Homo sapiens: one gene and its partner. The protein of the gene in region 1 purifies or fractionates together with the protein of each later gene. This does not show direct contact. Each region holds a gene or a part of one and is shown on either strand. Other genes may lie near its edges. The genes, in order: CYP4B1 and PKLR.

Region 1 (3,807 bases):
TGGTAGCCTAGGGTGAGGGCATGGAGGGCAATACTGGGTCGCTTAGTGGCCCACCCTTGGAGGGTTCCAGGCTCAGGGATGGAGTCGTGTAGGATGTGCTTAGCCCCAGGCTGCCAGGGCCTGGACTGACCAGCCCTCTCTCTCCCATCCCTTCCCCAGGGAGAGGCCTGCTGGTTCTTGAGGGGCCCAAGTGGTTGCAGCACCGCAAGCTGCTCACACCTGGCTTTCATTATGATGTGCTGAAGCCCTATGTGGCCGTGTTCACTGAGTCTACACGTATCATGCTGGTGAGCTCCCTGTGCCAGAGTACTGGAGGCTGTTGCCTGCTGGGCTAGCCCCTCTCCACCCTGATTTTGTCCTGGGGAGAGTAGGTGGTGCTCTGCAGTAAGGAGAATAGCTGAGCCCCAAGGCCTGTTCTGCCTGCAACAGCAGTGCCAAAGCCCTGCTCTACTGACATGTGCCGCAGGCTGCCACTGAGTCGGTGCTGAATCTCTAAGTGTCCTGGCAGCCCGATCCTTGTCTCCACCAGGAGACCCAGCCCTCTTTCCTCCCAGGCCAAAGGGTCTCTGTGAGAACTTAATAAGGCTCCTAGCATAGCAGGTTTGAGGACTGCCTATATTTGAGAGTATGGGGAAAGGCTTTCACATCTAAAACGTGTCTCCTCATTTTCTGTCTACCACAGCTGCCCAGAATTATGTCAATACAACTCATCTCTAAGAGGGATGTCAGAGGTCAGGGTTAGAGTCTTAGGGCTGGGTAATCCCTAAGTTATCCAGGCTAGTCTTTCCCCTTGTAGGAAACTCCCCTCCAGGATTACTTACATATACACCATGCGGGGGAGCTCACCACCTCTCAGCCATCCTACTCCCTTATAGGCTGCCCTGACTGGGAGAAAACGTCTGTGTGCTGTGCAAGATCTGCCTCCTGGTCCTGCCCTCTGAGCCTGAAGCCCAGAGGCTTCCAAACTTCTACCCACCCTATCCTGATATTCCAGCAGGATGGAGGGCAGGACAGGGACTGGGAGTGTGTGAAGGGGGCTTGGTGGTGGAGGATAGGCTACGGGTCCTGGAGGGCAGCTTGGGGCATCCAGCCCAACTAACCCCTGCATCGCCTCCTACACATTGCCTCCTATCCCTGGACTCCAGGACAAGTGGGAAGAGAAAGCTCGGGAGGGTAAGTCCTTTGACATCTTCTGCGATGTGGGTCACATGGCGCTGAACACACTCATGAAGTGCACCTTTGGAAGAGGAGACACCGGCCTGGGCCACAGGTCAGGAGCCACCTCGGGGCTGACCGCACTGTCTCCAAAGCCATCTTAGAGGGGAGAGTTGGCAGGGGTCCTGGGCTCTGATCTGAGAAGAGATAGGGTCCTGCCCCAGGGAGCCTTAGCTTGCGGGGAGACAGGACCTGCTCATGGTGGGGTAAACACCTGGCTTTAGCAAGGAGGCTTAAGGGCAGGGAGAAGAAGAGCAGGATGCTCTGTGGTTGGGGCTAGATTCCTGGAATGGAGTTTCTCTGGCTCTGCTCCTGGGCCAGTGTCTAAGCCAATCCCTCCTCCTACCCTCTGCTTAGCAGGGACAGCAGCTACTACCTTGCAGTCAGCGATCTCACTCTGTTGATGCAGCAGCGCCTTGTGTCCTTCCAGTACCATAATGACTTCATCTACTGGCTCACCCCACATGGCCGCCGCTTCCTGCGGGCCTGCCAGGTGGCCCATGACCATACAGGTGGGCCTTTCCCACAAGGCTCACCTCTAGGAAGCCTGGGTTCCTCCTCCTGGCCCCTCTATGCCCCCTCCCATTATAGGACCCCAGTTCCCCTTTGGACAAAAGATGGCTTCCCAGGCAGTGACACTCTGTGCTTTTGGTTCAGACCAGGTCATCAGGGAGCGGAAGGCAGCCCTGCAGGATGAGAAGGTGCGGAAGAAGATCCAGAACCGGAGGCACCTGGACTTCCTGGACATTCTCCTGGGTGCCCGGGTGAGTACATTGTTGCCCACCCCTACCTGAGGACTGGTCCCAGAGAGGTCTTCAACCATCCTCCCAGGACAGCAGAAGGAGCTCTTAAGCATTTCCCCCTTTCCTCAGCAAATATAACCTGTTCCTCGTCCCATGAAACATATTAGCAGGGGTTCAGAGGTGGGCAGGTGTAGGGTGTGTGTGCCTGAGCTGTGGAGTTGGGAGCCTAGGTCACGTGGTAGTGGCTGGACGACATTTCTAGACTTCTAAGATCCCCCAAAATGTTGGCCTTGTAGAATCCTAGAATCTTAGACTTCATTCATTCATTCATTCATTCAGTAAGTTCTTTATTCATCAATTCTAGAAACTCACTGAGTTCTGACTCTGGGTCATTTCCGTGCTAGGATGCAGAGATGGGAAAGACCTGGCCCTTCCTTCCAGATGCTTACAGTCCAGCAGGGGAGACAGTAGGTAGATGTTGACCAAAATGTCTTCCTCTGGCAGGTGGTATTCTATGTGCCCAGTGAGCAGAACAGTCAGGGCTGGACAAGGTCACAAGTCATTTGGCCAGAGCATTTAGGGAGGGCTTTGTGGAGGAGGAGGCATCCAGGCTGAGCTTTGAAGGAATATAGGAATCTGGGGGAAGGTCCTAATCCACCCTCTGAAAAGGAGCTTTCACTCCCTCCCAGAGACCTTCATTTGACAACCACCATTATGAGTTCTTCTTGTTACCCACCTCCAATACCTCAAGCTGTCCTATTATGCCTTCCCTAACCCAGGATGAAGATGACATCAAACTGTCAGATGCAGACCTCCGGGCTGAAGTGGACACATTCATGTTTGAAGGCCATGACACCACCACCAGTGGTATCTCCTGGTTTCTCTACTGCATGGCCCTGTACCCTGAGCACCAGCATCGTTGTAGAGAGGAGGTCCGCGAGATCCTAGGGGACCAGGACTTCTTCCAGTGGTGAGTCTGAGGGTGGGCCCGGTTTATCCTGCTCAGCCCTTGGGAAGGGCGATGCCCATCCTGTCCTGAACCATCCTGGAAATCAGGTGAGGTGGCGGCTGCTATCCTGTTACCCCCAGTGTCATACCTTTTGTGGTGGTGGGGGGTGGGGAGAGTGGTTGGCTGGGCACAGATGCACCCCTGAGCCCATTCTCCCAAAATGGAGCCTTTCAGAAGTGTTATGTAGAGAAAGTTGTCAACAAGAGGCTGATATTTTGTGTGCTAACTTCTTCTGACGGTAGAACCTGATTACCCTTCTGGGTCCCTGGATAGAGTAGGGAGAGCTGGGAGAGAAAGAGGTGGAAATGTGGGGGTGAACAGAGCTGAGACAGCTGGGAGAGCCAGTTCCTTGCTACTTGCCTTTGGATGGCAATACTCAGCTTCCAGATGCCATATCTCTCCTGCTGGTGAAGGAGAAAAGACTTCCCCAAACTTCATCACTTAAAAACTTTCCATTGTTTTCCCCTGTTTCTTGGCTCAAGACTGAACTCCTAAACACTTAAGGATTGACCCTGACCTCTCTGCAGTGTGATCTCTGGGAGTCTCTCAAGAGGCTCCTTCACCCTTGCTGGCTGCCTGTTCCCCTCAGGCCTTTGCTTGTGGTCAGACAACCTGCCTTTCTCTCTGGGCTCCTGAGCAGCCTCCAAGAGGGGGCTAGGCACACAGCAGGGGTACAGAAAATGCTGAGCCAGAGGGGGAACTTTAGATCCACTTGAAAGGGACTGACCTATAACTCCAGGGTCTAGGACCTGGAGTATGAAGCCTCCATTACCATTTCTGTTGGTCATATGTGAGAATCCCCCCCCCACGGGGTATCCAGACACATGCCAGGTGCTATCA
Region 2 (4,281 bases), about 110 Mb from region 1:
GACCTCAGGTGATCCGCCCGCCTCGGCCTCCCAAAGTGCTGGGATTACAGGCGTGAGCCACCGCGCCCAGCTTTTTTTTCTTTTTTTAAAAACAAACAAACAAACAAACAGAGTTTCGCTCTTGTTGCCCAAACTGGAGTGCAATGGCGTGATCTTGGCTCACTGCAATCTCTGTCTCCCGGGTTCAAGCGATTCCCCTGCCTCAGCCTCCCGAGTAGCTGGGATTATAGGCACATGCCACCATGCCTGGCTAATTTTTTGTATTTTTAGTAGAAACAGAGTTTCACCACATTAGCCAGGCTGGTCTCGGACCCCTGACCTCAGGTGATCCACCTGCCTCAGCCTCCCAAAGTGCTGGGATTATAGGCAAGAGCCACCATGCCCGGCCAACTTTCACTCCTTTCTTTCTTTCTTTCTTTCTTTCTTTCTTTCTTTCTTTCTTTCTTTCTTTCTTTCTTTCTTTCTTTCTTTCTTTCTTTCTCTTTCTTTCTTTCTTTCCTTCCTTCCTTCCTTCCTTCTTTCTTTTCTTTCTTTCTTTCTTGCCTGCTTGCTTTCTTTCCTTCCTTCCTTCCCTCCCTCCCTCCCTCCTTCCTTCCTTCCTTCTTTCTCTCTCTCTTTCTTTCTTTCTTTCCTTCTTTCTTTCTTTCTCTCTTTCTCTCTAGGGTCTCGTCTGTCACCTAGGCTGGAGTACAGTGGCTCGATCATGACTCACTGCAGCCGTGACCTCCTGGGCTTAAGTGATCCTCCCACCTCAGCCTCCTGAGTAGCTGGGACTACAGGCATGCACCACCACACTCAACTAAGTTTTGTATTTTTTGTAGAGATGGGTTTTGCCATTTACCCAGACTGGTCTCAAACTCCTGGGCTCAAGCGATCTGCCAACCTTGGCCTCCTAAAGTGCTGGGATTACAGGCATGAGCCACTGAGCCCAGCCCACTTTTTTTTTTTTTTTTTTTTTTTTTTTTTTGTGAGATGGAGTTTTTCTCCTGTTGCCCAGGCTGGAATGCAATGGTGTGATCTCGGCTCACCACAGTCTCCGCCTCCTGGGTTCAAGCGATTCTCCTGCCTCAGCCTCCTGAGTAGCTGGGATTGCAGGCACGCACCACCATGCCCGGCTAATTTTGTATTTTTAGTAGAGACGGGGTTTCTCCATGTTGGTCAGGCTAGTCTCGAACTCCTGACCTCAAGTGATCTGCCCACCTGGGCCTCCCAACATGCTGCGATTACAGGCATGAGCCACCATGCCCGGCCTCACTTTCTAACGGAATAAATAATTTACTTATTTTAAATAATTTATTGTGCTTACTATTTATTGTCATACTCAGCTAGACTGTCAGCTCCCCAAGGGTAGGGATTTTTGTCTGTTTTTTTCACTGATCTACTCCCAGGGCCCAAAATCTTGTCTACTATATGCTCAACAAATTTTTGTTAAATGAATGACTGTGTCAAACATGGAGAAGTCTCAAAGGAGACAAAAGATGAAGAAGCACCTCAAGAAATACCAATAGGCCCTGTGTGGCTGCAGGGGGATGGGAGTGCTTACCGATGGTGGCAATGATGCTGGTACTGCGAGCAGCCACGGGCTCGGAGTCAATGTCCAGTAGGCAGAGGTGTTCCAGGAAGGTGTCTGCCATAGCAGCTGGCAGCTGCTGCTGCTGGAAGAAGGCAGTGCCCAGCTCCTGGGTCAGTTGGGCCACACTGGCCCGCCGCAGATACCCCGCTGGCCCTGTGGTAGAAGGGGGCTCAGGGACTGCATGTCACCTGCCCTTCCTCCCCATGCCTTCGTCTCTCAGCATACCCTCTGTTCCTTCCCTTCTTATGAGCTGGGCATCATGCATATATTATTTTATTATGTCACAAGGATCCTATAAAGCAGGTACTGTTAAATGTTCTATAATTATCCAATTTTATGGATAAAGAAACAGAGGCTGAGAAACAGGAAATAAATGGTCCAATATTATACAGCTTCTAAGTATGGATCAGCTAGGATTCAAATCTAGGTCTGACTAACTCTAGCCCAAGTTCTTGACCACTCAGTTATACTGACCCCGCACAACCCAGGACCCCCCGACCTGCAGCTACTGATGACCCTCAACCCCACCACCCCTTGATGTCTAGTCCCCAGCAGCCTCACCCTATGCAGACCCAGAATCACCCAGTTCCTGCTCCAAAGGTCTCTGTTTTCTCCCTTCCAACCCCTGGCTACTGGCTGGCTTCCCCACCCCATCCTCTGAGTCTCCCCAGGCTTCTCAAAGCTGCTACAGACACAGAGGTCCCTGTAGCTTGACCCATCCCAGTTCAGAGGAGCCCCCGATTCCAGCCGCACCTTCCATGCCACTGCACACCTCTCTGGGTCTCCCTCTCTGTGGGTCTGCTCCACACTGTTGGGTTGTCAGAGGCATGAGGCCCAGCTGGGCTGGGGATCAGTTCTGCAGACTGGTTAAAGTGTCACCACTGTCTCCTGTTCCATTGGAAGCCCTGTATGCCAGGGGCCAGAGTCCAGGAACCACGGGAGTGCCCCGTGGCTTACATGCTGTGGCTCTGGCCTGCCTATAGGGCCTGGAAAAGACCCAGGCCAGGGTCCATAATTTAACACACGGGAGGCTCTGAAGAACGTACGTTCCTCTCCAAAACCCACCTAGCCAGTGGCTGATGTGGATCATTTATGCCCTCCACCCTGGCTCCTAGTTTTCACCCTCATTTTCCTCCTATGTTCCATGGCTTCTGTCTCCCCTTCTTACCTCCTGGAGCCCCAATCAGGATGGACTTTGCTAAGTCTCTTTGGGACTTAGAGACCCATGACCGAAGCTGCAGGGATGATATGTTCTCCTGGATCGACATGCTTTCAGTGTGGGCCTGGGGCTGCGGGACCATGGAATGAGAGGGAGAGGATGACAAAACTGCTGGTCTTATCTAAGGGAGACAGAGAAGAGAAAAGGGGCACACCCAGTAGGCCACCCTGTCCCCACAGAATCCCTCCCCCAGAACGGCCTGCTCTCTGCCCTCATCTCCTGGCATTTCCTCTCATCCTTTTTTCCTGATAAATTTTCAATCCATTCATACTATCTGGTCATCCACGTGAATAGATATTTTTTTTTTGGCCAGTCATATGGCCCCATTTTCTTTGTACTTTACTGAAGTTAGCTCTAGTGAATCCAGGGAGCAGGGGCTGTAGGGTGGGGCTGGAGCCTGAAGAAAGACAAAAGGGATCACTGTGATAATATGGTGGGGGGAGGGTTACCCAGTTCTGACCACTTTTTTTCTCTGTCTCAACCAAGAAATGCAGAGTGCCTTCACCACTCTGTAACCTGGCCAGCTGCATGTTTTCGCCTACATGTTTGAACCCAAGATGGTACCTTGAACATTCTCAGACACTGATAAACTTGATTAGGTTGTTGCTGGAAACACTGAAAGATCGACTATTTTGCTAAACTTATAGACTCCTACCCCCAGGGAAATTTTCTTTCCTCCCTCCCTTCCTTCCTTTTTTCTTTTTCTTTTTTCTTTTTTTTCTTTTTTTTTTCACAGAGTCTCACTCTGTCGCCCAGGCTGGAGTGCAGTGGCGCAATCTCAGTTCATTGCAACCTCTGCGATCCTCCTGCCTCAGCCTACCGAGTAGCTGGGATTACAGACGTGCACCACCACACCCAGCTAATTTTGTTTTTCTTTTTTCTTTTCTTTTCTTTTTTTTTTTTTTTTTGAGACTGAGTCTGACTCTGTTGCCCAGGTTGGAGTGCAGTGGCGTGATCTTGGCTCACTGCAACTTCTGCCTCCTGGGTTCAAGCGATTATCCTGTCTCAGCCTCCTGAGTAGCTGGGATTACAGGCATGCACCACCACGCCTGGCTAATTTTTGTATTTTTAGTAGAGACGGGGTTTCACCATGTTGGTCAGGCTGGTCTCGAACTCCTGACCTCAGGTGATCTGCCCGCCACAGCTTCCCAAAGTGCTGGGATTACAGGTGTGAGCCACTGTGCCTGGCCTAATTTTTGTATTTTTAGTAAAGATGGGGTTTCACCATGTTGTCCAGGCTGGTCTCCAACTCCTGGCCTCAAGTATCCACCAGCCTCGGCCTCTCAAACTGGTGGGATTACAGGTGTGAGCCATCATGCCCAGCCTTGTTTTCTTTCTTTTTTTTTTAAAGGGTCTCACTCTGTCACCCTGGCTGGAGTGCACTCGTGTGATCATGGCTCACTGTAGCCTTGACTTCCTGGGCTCCAACGATCCTCCCACCTCAGCCTCCCAAGTAGCCAGTACTACAGGTGTGCACCACCATGCCTGG

The links.
Region 2: the proteins of CYP4B1 (region 1) and PKLR purify together in Homo sapiens (affinity purification with mass spectrometry; one large-scale study listed by BioGRID and IntAct). This does not show direct contact.

The regions. Positions count from the first base shown.
Region 1 is NC_000001.11:46,812,337-46,816,143, forward strand, and holds part of CYP4B1 (cytochrome P450 4B1), read left to right. Parts: intron 1-159; coding exon 160-287; intron 288-1,145; coding exon 1,146-1,270; intron 1,271-1,572; coding exon 1,573-1,727; intron 1,728-1,872; coding exon 1,873-1,979; intron 1,980-2,737; coding exon 2,738-2,928; intron 2,929-3,807. UniProt on the Homo sapiens protein: Cytochromes P450 are a group of heme-thiolate monooxygenases. In liver microsomes, this enzyme is involved in an NADPH-dependent electron transport pathway.
Region 2 is NC_000001.11:155,298,555-155,302,835, forward strand, and holds the start of PKLR (pyruvate kinase PKLR), read right to left. Parts: upstream 2,885-4,281; 5' UTR 2,842-2,884; coding exon 2,742-2,841; intron 2,399-2,741; exon of another isoform or gene 2,334-2,398; coding exon of another isoform or gene 2,327-2,333; intron 1,727-2,326; coding exon 1,544-1,726; intron 1-1,543. UniProt on the Homo sapiens protein: Pyruvate kinase that catalyzes the conversion of phosphoenolpyruvate to pyruvate with the synthesis of ATP, and which plays a key role in glycolysis.